Linked DNA regions of Homo sapiens. The protein of the gene in region 2 interacts with the protein of the main gene of each other region in a pairwise test. Each region holds a gene or a part of one and is shown on either strand. Other genes may lie near its edges.

Evidence for each region. The genes of interacting proteins can lie anywhere in the genome.
Region 1: the proteins of CCDC6 (region 2) and LRSAM1 interact in binary tests that used the Homo sapiens proteins (3 or more experiments, as listed by UniProt).

The regions. Positions count from the first base shown.
Region 1 is NC_000009.12:127,475,510-127,482,509, reverse strand, and holds part of LRSAM1 (E3 ubiquitin-protein ligase LRSAM1), read right to left. Parts: intron 3,577-7,000; coding exon 3,547-3,576; intron 3,128-3,546; coding exon 3,005-3,127; intron 2,672-3,004; coding exon 2,532-2,671; intron 1,328-2,531; coding exon 1,283-1,327; intron 1-1,282.
Region 2 is NC_000010.11:59,791,557-59,799,709, forward strand, and holds part of CCDC6 (coiled-coil domain-containing protein 6), read right to left. Parts: intron 3,042-8,153; coding exon 2,917-3,041; intron 1,556-2,916; coding exon 1,361-1,555; 3' UTR 1-1,360.

The DNA of each region.
Region 1 (7,000 bases), on a different chromosome or scaffold from region 2:
TTTTTGGGAAGGTAAGTTGGCACCTAGCAAAATGTCCTTTAAATATTTCCTTCACAAATAGTCACATGGCCGGGTGCGGTGGCTCACACCTGTAATCCCAGCACTTTGGGAGCCTGAGGCAGGCGGATGACTTGAGGTCAGGAGTTTGAGACCAGCCTGGCCAACATGGTGAAACTCCATCTCTACTAAAAATACAAAAATCAGCCGGACCTGGTGGTATGCGCCTATAATCCCAGCTACTCGGGATGCTGAGGCAGGAGAATCGCCTGAACCTGGGAGGTGGAGGTTGCAGTGAGCCGAGATCGTGCCACTGCACTCCAGCCTGGGTGACAGAGTGAGACTCCGTCTCAAAAAAAAAAAAAAAAAAAAGATATACTAAAAATTCTGCTATAAATATAGCCTGTCACTTTTTCCATTAGCAATATGTTATGTTTTCCCTTAATGAGAAATATTATTCAATAAGACATTTAATGGCTGCAGGTTATTCCTCCATACATAATTTATGTAACTAAATAATTTTTCTTTCCAGAAATTTAGATTTTTTTTCTGAATTTCTTTTTTTTTTTAGCTGGAACCATAGGCGCCTGCCACCACTCCTGGCTAAGTTTTGATTTTTAGTAGAGACAGCGTTTTGCCATGTTGGCCAGGATGGTCTCAAACTCCTGACCTCAAGTGATCTGCCCACCTCGGCCTCCCAAAGTGCTGGGATTACAGATGTGAGCCACTGCGCCTGGCCTGAACTTTTTATACTAGGAATATAGTTGGACATTATATATCTAGCCTTATTCATGTCTCTGAATGTTTTTCAGGAGTGTACGTATGTTTTAATGAACTTGAAGACAATGATTCTTTGTAATTAAATATCGTCTAAGGAGGTGAATCTCCTTATAGCTTTAGGGAAATGTCCTGGCATAATCCTCTGGAGAATCACAAGACATTCTCCCCTCAAAGCTGCTCTCCTTGGCCGGGAGCAGTGGCTCACGCCTGCAATCCCAGTACTTTGTGAGGCCGAGGCGGGCAGATCATGAGGTCAGGAGATCGAAACCATCCTGGTTAACACGGTGAAACCCCGTCTCTACTAAAATACAAAAAATTAGCTGGTGGTGGTATGCGCCTATAGTCCCAGCTACTCGGGAGGCTGAGGCAGGGGAATTGCTTGGACCTGGGCGGCGGGGGTTGCACTGAGCCGAGATTGTGCCACTGCACTCCAGCCTGGCGACAGTGCAGGACTCCGTCTCAAAAAAAAAAAAAAAATGCTGCCCTCCCCTGGAAGAACACTTACCTTTCATTTTCCAGCGATTTCAAAATCTCGGAGCTTTTCTTTTGTCTGTGGAGAAAATCATAAAAGGTCCTGGCAGTCACCAGCAGGCCTGTTTCCTGTCTCACTGCGTTAGCTGTGCAGAGGGGCTTAGGAAATGGGCTGGGGGCACCTTGGCTCCACCACCTTGAAGCTCTGGGTTCTTAGCCAGTTACTGAAACCACTCAAGTCCCAGGTTTCCTCACCTATGAAATTAGAAGAATAAAAAAACCCAGCCAGACACAGTGGCTCACATCTGTAATCCCAGCACTTTGGGAGGCTGAAGTGGATAGATCACTTGAGGTCAGGAGTTCGAGACCAGCCTGGTCAACATGGAGAAACCTTATCTCTACAAAAATTAGCCAGGCGTGGTGGCCCAAGCCTGTAGTCCCAGCTCCTTGGGAGGCTGAGGCAAGAGAATTGCTTGAACCTGGGAGAAGGAGGTTGCAGTGAGCCGAGAGCACACCACTGCACTCCAGCCTCAGTGACACAGCGAGACTCTGTCTCAAACAAAACAAAATGAAAACAACCCAGCTTCTTGGTGCATTTGTAAAGACTTAATGAAGAAATAGATGTAACAAGCTTGGCACATAAGAAGCATCCAACAAATGACTGGTTTCCTGAACTCATGCAGGTACTTTTGAAACTGACAGGTGAGGGAGGAACGAGTGATTCAGGGTTAGAAAAAAGAGGCCTGGAAGTGGCAGGGCATATGGCTGGAGCCTGTTTCTGGAATCATCCTGCAATGGGCCCCCTCACTAGACTTCTCAGGCTTTTCTGGCGCCATGTCTCCCCAGCCCCATCAAGATCTGCTCTTACTAGCTCGTACCTTGCACAGGGTTTGTTAAGGCAAATCTCACTACAGGTGAACAGCTGACCTCAGTGCAACGGGTTACGCAGAACCCAAAATACTGGAGCAGGATGTGATCCCAACTATCTTGTCAAACCCACTCACTTTATAGATGGGAAGCTTGGGGCCCAGTGGGGAAACATTTGCCCGAGGCCACAGGTCCAATCTGGTAGCAGTCTCATGCTAAGAAACCAGACTTTGTAATGACTGGGTCAGATTCTTTTCTCTCTACGCTGGTGCCAGTTGAAGCACCCAGACTGGATCCTGACAAGGGAAGCCCGGGGCAGGGGCAGAGGCAGTGAGGGAGAAACACACTCCTCCCGGCTCCTCAGGGGACTGCACGGGGAAGGACTCTGGGGCTGGGGCCGAGGAGCAGAGCCCAACCTCTGATTGTCCTGCAGCAGCTTCTGGATCCGGCTGGAAATGTTCTGTTCCGTCTGCTTCAGCTGCTCCTGCAGCCGCTGCCGCTCTGCGTTGAGGTGGCGCTGGTGCTCACTCAGGCCCTGCTCCAGCCGGGACTGCTCCTGCAGCCGGAGGTAGGGGTCCTGAGCCCCTGGGACCCCCTCAGACGCCGTGAGGGGTACTGACTGGGGTTAGGAGGCTGGCTTTCCCACCCTGCCTTGCCAATCCTTTTTGTGTGACCTCCGGCCAGCTCCTCCCAGTAGGCTACAGTGTCCATCTGCACACGGGGAGGCTGGGCTGGGTGATCTGTAAGGGCCCTCCCAGGTGCTGGGGGACAGAAGGAAGTGACAGCTTCATCCCACTGCCTTTCCACATCCGAGGGACCTTGGCCCAAGCCAGGAGGCCACTGGCTGGGGGATGCAGCCAGGCTGGACCCTAGCAGGCGGCTCACAAACCTCCTTGACCGTCTGAAGGATCTCATCCTTCTGGCTGCTGCTCTGCTGAAGGAGCTGGGTGTGCTCCCGCTGCCCCAGTTCCAGGCGCCGTTCAAACTCGAGTTTCTCCAGCATCTTCTGTTCCTGCAAGACACAGATCCTGGTGACTGTCAGCACAGGCCCTGGGGGAGTTAGGACACAGAAGTCGGGAGAATCCACCCCTCAACACTGACAGGGCAGGCTCCAGGTCTTCATGCTGAGCAACCCCCACTCCCCTCCAGGGCCCAACTGTAAGAAAACAAGCTGTTCACAGGAAGAGGCTAGTGGTCTAGAGCCCGGTGCTGGGCTCAACCCCTCTGAGCCTCAGTCTCTGCACCTGTCCCATGGATGCTCTACCACCCACCTGAGGCATGTGAGGATGCAGCAGACTGCGTGTAAGAGGAAGGCATTACTGTGACCTCTAATTCTGAGCTGGGAAGAAGTCATTTTCTCAAATATTTTATGAGTTGAGTTGAGATCTTTAATGAGAAAAGAGTGACAGAAGGGTAAAGGCATTTTCTTACCTTCCTCTTCTCATAGTCTGAGAACCTGTTCTGGGAGGAAAAAAAGACAGTGGTCAAGAGAGGGTGGCAGCAGTGGTTCTCCCTGGCATGGGCACCAGGAACCCCCGGGTGGCCTGATGTTATACAAACTCTGGCCCACCCCAGACCACTGCCTCAGAATGGTGGGGTCGGGGGATGAGGGGATCCGTATTGATCAAGGGCACCAGGTGGTTCCAGTGGACACCTGATGAGAACCCCTGGGCTGTCACTGTGTGCATGGCACTGTAGGAGGGGCTCTTCAAGACAGTTCTGGGATGCAGCCCTGAGCAGGGATGGTGGTCTGAAGAGCAGAGCAGGAAATGGGATATCTGATGCCCATGGATGTCTGCGTAACACACCTACAGCACCCGGTTCCAGTCCACCAAAATACTCACAGTGCACAAAGGTGTGGGTACAACTTCCTGCAGAATTATTCAAAAGAGCAAAAACACTGGAAATAACTCATACATCTATCAACATCTGTCCGTAAGTCATGGTGCATCCATACAGTGGACTATTACACAACCGCCAATGGGGCGAATGTGTGAGATCCCTCACCTGTGTGTAGCATGATTCTACTTTTGCAAAAACATCATCAAGAAAACTCAACTCTGAGCATATGTGTGAAGGTATTGAGTCAAAGGTCAAGAAGGACAGTCATTAATCAGTTAATGATGACTACCTCCAGGCAACGGGAGTGCAGGGTGGAAGGGTTGACATTCACTTGGTTTGTAATTGTCTGTATTGTTTAAATTTATAACAAGGAGCAGGTATTAAACATCAATAATGTAATGTAATTATTGGTGTTTAATTAATTAATTTATTATTGATGTAATTAAACAGCAATACACATATACACAAGAGTTAGGTTCTTCTTTTTTTTTTTTTTTTTTGAGACGGAGTTTTGCTCTTGTTGCCCAGGCTGGAGTGCAATAATGGCACAATCTTGGCTCACTGCAACCTCCACCTCCTGGGTTCAAGCAATTCTCCTGCCTCAGCCTCCTGAGTAGCTGGGATTACAGGCACCCACCACCACACCCGGCTGATTTTCTGTATTTTTAATAGAGACAGGGTTTCACCATATTGGCCAAGCTGGTCTCGAACTCCTGACCTCAGGTGATCCATTTGCCTCGGCCTCCCAAAGTGCTGGGATTATAGGCATGAGCCACTGCGCCCGGCCCACACAAGTTTTTTCTTTGTGATGGAGTCTCACTCTTGCCCACGCTGGAGTGCAGTGGCACAATCTCAGCTCACTGCAGCCGCGACCTCCTGGGCTCTAGTGATCCTCCCACCTCAGCCTCCTAAGTTGCTGAGACTGCAGGCACGCACCACCATGCCTGGCTAATTTTTTGTATTTTTGGTAGAGACAAGGTCTTGCTATGTTACCCAGGATGGTCTCAAACTCCTGAGCTCAAGCATCCACCCGACTCGGCCTCCCAAAGTGCTGGGATTATAGGCGTGAGCCACTGCGCCTGGCACACAGGTATTTTTTGAATGGTCCTTCTATTTAGTTATCCTGTTTTGAGAACAGGATCAGTCTCTGAATTATAAAAGCAGCAACCTATAAATAGGATTTTGCCTATACTAATGGTAGGAATATAATTTTAAAATTAATCTTCAATTATACAGATAACATCTCAATATATTCTCCTTGTAAAAGTTTGAAACATGGTATAAAAAACTAAAGCATCTACTGACCACTCCAGCCTAACCCTGGTTCCCCTCCCACCCCACACCTCCTGTCAGGTGTAACTGTCATTATCAGGCCCAAGGCATGCATCTGTACATATATAATTTGTGCCTTTGGGAAAGAAATATATTTGTATTTGTGTGCATATATAAACATTTTTTTAATCAAGTATAATCTATTTACTCTAATTCACCCAATGTTAGTGAACAATTCTATGAATCTTTATATATGCATAGAGTTCTGTAACCTCTAAACACAATTAAGATAGAAAACAATTCTGGCTGGGCGCGGTGGCTCATGCCTGTAATCCCAGCACTTTGGGAGGCTGAGACAAGTGGATCACTTGAGTTCAGGAGTTCGAGACCAGACTGGCCAGCATGGTGAAACCCCGTCTCTACTAACAAAATGCAAAACTTAGCCAGGCGTGGTGGCAGGTGCCTGTAATCCCAGCTACTCGGGAGGCTAAGGCAGGAGAATTGCTTGAACCTGAGAGGCAGAGGTTGCAGTGAGCTGAGATCATGCCACTGCACTCCAGCCTAGTGTGACAGAGTGAGACTCTGTCTCAAAAAGAAAAAAGAAAACAATTCCATCACCCTCGAAAATTCGCTCATGCCACTTCATCATCAAATCCTCTTCCCACTCCAGCCACTGGCAACTACCTGTCTGTTTCCTTTTTTTGTTTTGAGTTTTCTTTTTCTTTCTTTTTTGAGATAGGGTCTAGTTCTGTTACTCAGGATGGGGTGCAGTGGTGTAATCTTAGCTCACTGCAAACTCCAACCTCCTGGGCTTAAGCCATCCTCCCACCTTAGCCTCCCTCGTAGCTGGGACCACAGGCACGTGCCACTATGCCTGGCTAATTTTTTTGTATTTTTTGTAGAGACAGGGTCTCGCCACATTGCCCAGGCTGGTGTTGATTGAGTTTTCTTTTTAAACATAAGAATGGAAATAGACTAGCCCATCCTGTTCTGCAATCTGCCCTTTTCACTAATCCATGTGTCCCAGCGAGCCGAGGCTCAAATGCTCCATCTCATGGTGTGCACATGACCCAGGGGCAGTGCCTTCTCACTGACAAACATTTGGGGGGCATCCAATACTACAAATAAGGCTGCAATAAACACTCCTGCAAATGTCTCCTCATGCAAGCATTTATCTTGGGTATACATTGAGAAGCGGAACTTCTGGATCACGGGCTGTGCCCATGAAAATTTTTGACATCTGGCGGGTGTGGTGGCTCACACCTGTAATCCCAGCACTTTGGGAGGCCGAGGTGGGCAGATCACTTGAGGTCAGGAGTTCGTGACCAGCCTGGCCAACATGGTGAAACCCCGTCTCTACTAAAAATACAAAATTAGCCGGGCATGGTGGCGCATCCCTGTAATCCCAGCTACTCGGGAGGCTGAGGCAGGAGAATCACTTGAACCCGGGAGATGGAGGTTGCAGTGAGCCAAGATTGCACCACTGCACTCCAGCCTGGGCAACAGAGTGAGACTCCATCTCAAAAAAAAATAAAAAAATAATAAAATCTTTTTTGACACCTACTGTCAAATTATCCTCCAAAGTTGTGATACCAATTTTCACTCCCAAGAGCAGTTTATGAGGACACCTGTTTTCCCATACTCTGGCCAACAGAAATTGTCATGTCAAAATGTGTGCCAATCTTGAGGAAGGAAATGGTATTTCAATGTTGTTTTAACTTAACATGCCTCTCCTCTGATTACCAGCAAAGTTGGCATTTTTAAATGTTTG
Region 2 (8,153 bases):
CTCTGATTATATCCAACAGATACACATTCTTGTCATAAAATATACATTCTCTAGTAAGTTATTTTCATCCACAGCATATATAAATATGCAAACACAGGTGGTAAAAATCACTTTACTACCAAAGTACAAAACAGCAACTGCTGAAAAACAAAAATTAAGATGTTGCACGTGTTAAGAAAAGAGTGACTCAGTGTTCCACTGCAAAGTGAAACCAAATGATTTATTTGTGCTAAATGAATGGAAATAATGTATTCAGAATATACTTCTTTGTACACTGCACTTGCTTATACTGGGTGAAATGAACAGCCATCAATGCTAATGTGCTACTTTCCTTTAGACCTTATTTTCTTTTCTGCCAAGCAATACAATATTTTCTGGCCATTATGCCAAGATAATGCGATAATGTCCATTTCAAATAGTATTTTCTAATGGTATTTTGCACCTTTAAAATATTTGTTCAAACTCTATTTTAAGAGAACACAAATGAAGTACGAAAGGGGGAAGCCGCATTGTTTTTGTTACAATCACACTGCCTTCTGCAGCAGAAATCAAATAACACATTCTAATTAGCCATTGAAACCACCGGTGAGTAGGACAACATTTATCGACTCATGTTAGAGGGGGCCAGGTTAAGTAGATTAACATTAAGGATAAAAAAGAGAATCACATCTTAATATACGATAATTATCCATCCCATTTATGTGGAGAAGGTACAGCCACATGATTCATTACTTTGGGCCATCTGTTTTACGAGAGACATGGATGTCAATAACACAATGAAAATAACCTGTAAAAAATGTATCTGTAGAAAGTTCTGTTAAACAGAAAATATGTCTTGGGCACTGATTCATCTAACTTTCTGTTCTACACTGAAAGCCAGATTTTCAAAGGTCTGAATTGTAGTGCTGAATTATTGGTATGTTTGGTAAACACTATTATAATGAGAGGAGGGTAACAACAGCTCAGTAATTTTCTGCAGATTCATGGAAAAAAATATAAAAAAGATATCCCTTTTTCTTTTACAAACCTAAAAGCCAGGAGAATGAAGCTCTGGGCCAAGCAAAAATTGCACACTGCTGCTGAAATACCAAATACCAAACAGCGAAGGTTCCAGCCAGGGAATGGACGTACATGAAGATTCAAGTAAAACACTGATGGAAAAAGTCGTCTGGTTAGTGTTGTAGACCCACAACACTGGCTGCATTTCTGACAAACATTTACAACACAATGGATAGTGAAGCCTAGATAACCTCAGTGCAAATAAGTCATATCCAAATATGCCAGAGAAGGAAGCCTTTGGCGTTGAGTAGACGGCTCCATTGGATGAGTCCCAACTTGAAATTCAGACTAAGCTCATGCATTAAGGCTGGGAGGAGGGGTGCGCCGAATGTTGCGAAGGAGTAGGCTGCGAGGTGGCTGCTGAGGGGACCGTGGGCTGCATGGGTGGCGGAGGTGGAGGCGGAGGTGGCTGGACTGGGGTCTGTGTGTTGGGAGATGGAGGCGGCGTGGGCCGTTTGAATTTGTCAGGACTGTTGCTTCTCCGTGGTGAAGGCCTCTGCAGAGGGGACAGGAACAGCAAGTCAGTCTAGGTACAGGTGGATCTCATTCTACCTAACACAGCCTGACTTGGCACTGGGGCTAATCAAACACTAACCAACAAAGACAAGAAACCAGGGATTTCTTTCTTCATCCCTACTGGTTTCTGAACTAGTAATAAAATTTAAATAAGGCAGTGTTTACACTTCCACCTATGAAAAAGCTACATAAAATTACTGCACAACTTGTGTTGAACAAACTGCTGGACTTGGGTCCTTCAACGAGAGCTGTAAAATATCCCCTTAAATCTTTCTTTCCGTGTGTGTCACCAATTCCCTCTATTGCTTATCTCCAATAAGTTGTCCACATCCTGAAAGATACAGCTCAACAGAAATGTTTCTATGTTTGAGGCCGGGTGCAGTGGCTCACACCTGTAATCCTAGCACTTTAGGAGGTAGAGGTGGGTGGATAACCTGAGGCCAGGAGTTCGAGACCAGCCTGGCCAACAGGGCAAAACCCCGTCTCTATTAAAAATACAAAAAGCAGCCAGGTGTGGTGCCGTGTGCCTGTAATACCAGCTACTCGGGAGGCTGAGGCAAGAGAATCCCTTGAGCTCCGGAGGCGGATGTTGCAGTGAGCAGACATCATGCTGCTGAACTCCAGCCTGGATGACAGAGTGAGGAAAAAAAAAAAAAAAGTTCCTACTTTTACATAAAGTCCATCAAACTGGCCAAACAGCTTCAGAAATACCTTAAGTGCATTCTTAGAATAGGGTTCTTCTTTAAAATATTATAATTTATTCTTTGAAATATTGGTATTTCTGTTATTGGAAATACCCTTAATAATACTCTCACTCTACTAGCTACATTTCTAATGGCTCTATTAGTCAACTATATTGCCGACTCTAAAGAAAAAACTCCCTTGGGTAGAGTTGGAACCAGATGCACTTAAGCTTCCTTGTAATTCGAGGAGAGAAAATTCTGAGTAACATTACAAACAAGGCTAACTTCAGGAAGAATACTGAAGGTCAGTGAACTGTGAAGGTGCAGACAATAAATATCTTTAGACATTATGGCAACCAACAATAATGCAAGGAGCTGGCCAGAGTTCAATCAAAGCACTGGCCAGAGTTCAAATTATATTTCACAAAGGGTAATTTTTCATAGGAAGTGAAGTTAAAGTTTTGTCTCCTGGGAAGGATTTTAGTTTCAATACCAGAATTTGGTATCAAACTGTTTAAGTCTCTACAGTTTCAAGGTGAACGGATGGAGGAGGCAGGAAGAAGGGCAAATGTCTAAGGGCACCGATCCTGTTCTCCAGAACACCAGTCGGTACCACTTTCAGGAGTAAAGTGCTGCTTCCTACCCCACGGACACTTACTGTGATACCATGGGATGTTCCCATGTGCTGCACGTGAAGACCCGGGGAATTGTAATAAGACATTCCAGCTCTAGTCAGTGAAGTTGGTGGCGTGAAACCAACCGTGTGACTTGCATATGATAGACCTAAAATATAACAACAAATTAAGTATCATTTTAAGCTCAACTATCTGGTGTCTTCAACTATCTAGGAGGTTTTAAATCGCAGTAGTTCTCTATCACCCACAAAAATACAAACAGATGAAAAGAATGATGGGCTCACTAAATGGTGTGGATAACAAGGGAAATAAATGTTAATTCCTAGGATAGAACAGAGAGCCCAGAAATAAACTCACACGTATATGGTCAACTGATCTTCAAAAAGGGCACCAAGAATACACAACGGGGAAAGAGAACAGTCTCTTCAACAGATGGTGTTGGGAAAACTGGATATTCACATGCAGAGGAGTGACACTGGACCTTATCTCTTACACTATATACAAAAGTCAACTCAAAATGGATTAAAGACTTAACTATAAGACCTTAAACTATAAAACTCTTAGAAGGAAAATAGGGGAAAAGCTCCCTGACATTGATCTTAGCAATGATTTCTTGGATATGACATAGGCAACAAAAAAAAAAAGCAAAAACAAATACGTGGGACTACATTCAACTAAAAAGTGTCTGCGCTAAGGAAACTTTCAGTCAACAGACTGAAAAGGCAACCTATAGAATGGGAGGAGATATTTGCAAACCATATACCTGGTATGGGGTGAATATGCGAAATACATAAGTAACTCCTATGACTCAAAGCAAACAAACACACTCAAATAGTCCAATGAAAAAATGCACAGAGAACTTGAATACACATTTCTCTAAAAAAGATACACAAATGTGCTAATAGATATATGAAAAGACGATTATCACCACTAACCATCAGGGAAATGCAAATCAAAACCACAGTGAGATATCACCTCATAACTGTTAAGTTGGCCATTATTATTTTTTTTCTTATTCATTTTTATTATTATTATTATTATACTTTAAGTTTTAGGGTACATGTGCACAATGTGCAGGTTAGTTACATATGTATACATGTGCCATGCTGGTGTGCTGCACCCATTAACTCGTTATTTAGCATTAGGTATATCTCCTAATGTTATGCCTCTCCCCTCCCCCCACCCCACAACAGTCCCTAGAGTGTGATGTTATTCCCCTTCCTGTGTCCATGTGTTCTCATTGTTCAATTCCCACCTATGAGTCAGAACATGTGGTGTTTCGTTTTTTGTCCTTGCGATAGTTTACTGAGAATGATGATTTCCAATTTCATCCATGTCTCTACAAAGGACATGAACTCATCATTTCTTATGGCTGCATAGTATTCCATGGTGTATATGTGCCACATTTTCTTAATCCAGTCTATCGTTGTTGGACATTTGGGTTGGTTCCAAGTCTTTGCTATTGTGAATAGTGCCACAATAAACATACCTGTGCATGTGTCTTTATAGCAGCATGATTTGTAGTCCTTTGGGTATATACCCAGTAATGGGATGGCTGGGTCAAATGGTATTTCTAGTTCTAGATCCCTGAGGAATCACCACACTGACTTTCACAATGGTTGAAATAGTTTACAGTCCCACCAACAGTGTAAAAGTGTTCCTCTTTCTCCACATCCTCTCCAGCACCTGTTGTTTCCTGACTTTTTAATGATTGCCATTCTAACTGGTGTAAGATGGTATCTCACTGTGGTTTTGATTTGCATTTCTCTGATGGCCAGTGATGGTGAGCATTTTTTCATGTGTTTTTTGGCTGCATAAATGTCTTCTTTTGAGAAGTGTCTGTTCATGTCCTTCGCCCACTTTTTGATGGGGTTGTTTTTTTCTTGTAAATTTGTTTGAGTTCATTGTAGATTCTGGATATTAGCCCTTTGTCAGATGAGTAGGTTGCAAAAATTTTCTCCCAATTTGTAGGTTGTATAAAAGAAAAAAAAAGGTAACAAGTGGTGGTGAGGATACGGAGAAAAAATCCTTATACACTGTTGGTAGGAATGTAAAATGGTGCATCCACTATGGAAATCAGTATGAAAATGCCTCAAAAGATTAAAACTAGAAGTACCACATGATCTAGCAATCCCACTTCTGGGTATTTATACAAAATAATTGAAATCAGGATCTCAAAGAGATATTAGCACTCCCATATTCACTACAGTGTTATTCACAATAGCAAAAATGTGGAGGCCTGGAGCGGTGGCTCACGCCTGTAATCCCAGCACTTTGGGAGGCTGAGGCAGGCAGGTCACAAGGTCAGGAGATCGAGACCATCTTGGCTAACATGGTGAAACCCCGTCTCTACTAAAAAAAATACAAAAAAATTAGCTGGGCATGGTGGCGGGTGCCTGTAGTCCTAGCTATTCGGGAGTCTGAGGCAGGAGAATGGCATGAACTCGGGAGGCGGAGCTTGCAGTGAGCTGAGATCGTGCCACTGCACTCCAGCCTGGGCGACAGAGCCAGATTCCATCTCAAAAAAAAAAAAAAAAAATGTGGAAACAACCTCACTGTCCATCAACGGATGAGCAGATAAAGAAAATGTGATATATATAGACATATAAAGGAATATTCAGTCTAAAAGGAGAAAATCCTGCCATATGCAACAACATATATTAACCTCGAGAATATTATGCTAAGTGAAATAAGCCAGTCACAGAAGGACAAATCCTGCCTGGTTCCACTTATATGAGGAGTTTAAATAGCCAATCTCATAGACACAGAGTAGAATGGCGGTGAACTGCTGCTCAACAGCCATCAAGTTTCAGTTAAGCAAAACGAATAAACTACAGAGAGTTGCTGCACAACATTATACTACAGTTAACAGTACTGTATTGTATTCTTAAAAATAAGAGGATAGATCTTATATTGAGAGGTCTCACCACAATAATGATTTTTTTAAGTCAAACCCTGTCAGGAATTCAACTGAGATTCAGGAAAGCAAAAGACATGAGAAAGAACAAGAATAAAGTGGAGAAAATCGAGCAAAGGAGTAAATATCAAATGCAAGAAAACCAGAAATGTCAAAAGATGTATCAACAATTGACCAAACTGGAGATAGATATTAAGTAGCCAATGAACTGAACCTCCTAGCAAAAAAAAAAAAAAAAAAAAAAAAAAAAAATCAACAAGAAGAAGACAGGGAGAGTGTGGGCATGAGTGAGTGAGAGAGAGAGAGAGTGAGAGTGTTGTGTGTGTGTGTGTGTGTGTGTGTGTCTCAGCCATAACAGCAAACAAAACCACTGGGAATATCACGACTTGAGAATATTCAATACAAGGAATGAAAGCCCTGCCAATGTTCCCTAAAAGAACCTGGTATTTAAGGAAGAAACAATCCCCAGTCCAATATAATGTTCTGTGTAGTCTTCATGTAGGAGTCCAGGATCATCTCCACTGTGTTTTAACATCTGTATGTCCAGACTCTCCTTACTGTTAGACAGGTTTGGATTGGGGTCCATATTTTGAGAACATCTAAAAGCGATCCTCACCTACATGTGGCATGTGAAGCCCTGCTCGTCAAGAGTCAGTGCAGAAGTCACCAGCCGGTCTGGGGAATTACTTGTTTTATCACTGCACAAATGTGGCTAGCTTTCTTTACACCTTTGAGTTCCCAACATCTACCACAATACCTTGCACAGGGTAGGTTCCATACTGGCAAAGTGAAAAGGGAAAACAGAGGAGCTGTCTGGGGAAATGTGGATAGGAATCACCTATTGACAATTACTCTGAACATACTATCAGCTATTAGAGGCCAAGCAATGTGAACTCCACTTACTGCTTTTCTGAATTACGTAAAAACAAGAAGCTGTTAAGTATGCTCTTCCATCTGTCTTTTTTGTTTCCATGACAGAGATATTCAGCCAAGCCTTCCTTTAGTTGTGCTATTATCGCAGGACTTTTCTGTGCCCTCAGCATCTAATACTAAAAGTTTATTTTGTGATTTGACTATGAATTAGTGATGCTTTCTATTTGACATATTTCCATTTCCAATTGTGGAGTTTTTATTCACATTTACAAAATGGAGGTCTGGGATAAAGGACAAGTCTTTGGGAACTAAGTGGTTTTTTAATGTGATATTTACTGGAATCACAAGAACTTTACTCATCTGGGAAAAGAAAGAAGTTGTTTTCTTTAAAAAAACATTGGAGAATAAAATCCTAATTTTATTTCTTATGAAAGTGATTACATTTAAGAGAAAGGCTATAAAATATAAAAGTGGGCTGGACGTGGTGGCTCACGCCTGTAATCCCACCACTTTGGGAGGCTGAGGTGGATGGATCACGAGGTCAGGAGTTCGAGACCAGCCTGACCAACATGGTGAAACCCCATCTCTACTAAAAATACAAAAACTAGGTGGGCGTGGTGGTTTGTGCTGATAAATCCCAGCTACTCAGGAGGCTGAGGCAGGAGAATCGCTTGAATCTGGGAGGTGGAGTTTATAGTGAGCTGAGATCATGCCACTGCACTCCAGCCTGCGCGACAGAGCAAGACTGTTTCAAAAAAAAAAAAAAAAAAAAAAAAAGTGGATCCTTGTCTTCAAATAGGGGATTCAGTTCATTTTTAAAAATATAGTCAATGTTCTAGTATTACTGAGTTAACTTTTCTGAAGGGTAATTATGAGTACTGCCTACTTACTTAAAAAAAAAAAAATCCTGGCCGGTCATGGTGGTTCATGCCTGTAATTCCAGCACTTTGGGAGGCTGAAGCGGGTGGATCACTTGAGGTCGGGAATTCAAGACCAGCCTGGTCAACACGGTGAAACCTTGTCTCTACTAAAAATACAAAAAATTAGCCAGGCATGGTGGCGGGTGCCTGTAATCCCAGCTACTTGGGAGCTGTAATCCCAGCTTAAACCCAGGAGGCGGAGGTTGCACTGAGCCAAGATCATGCCACTGCACTCCAGCCTGGGCAACAGAGCAAGACTCTATCTCGAAAAAAGAAATCTCCTTCTCTAGCTGTTACCAAGACTTCTGCATTTGGCTTCAAACTATATTCTGATGCTGCAGGTCAGTGGTTCTCAACAGTGAATATCAAAGTTCTGCTTGCCTTATCCCAAACCAATGAATCAGAATCTCCAGGGAGCTGAACCCCAGGGCAGCTGTGAAGAGAACTGCAGTGATTTTATTGCTCTTGATTCAGACCTCCATGCCTCTGTTAATGGTGTGCCCTAGCCTGAGAATGTCTTCTCTTTACCACAGCTTCTTCCTGCTCCCAG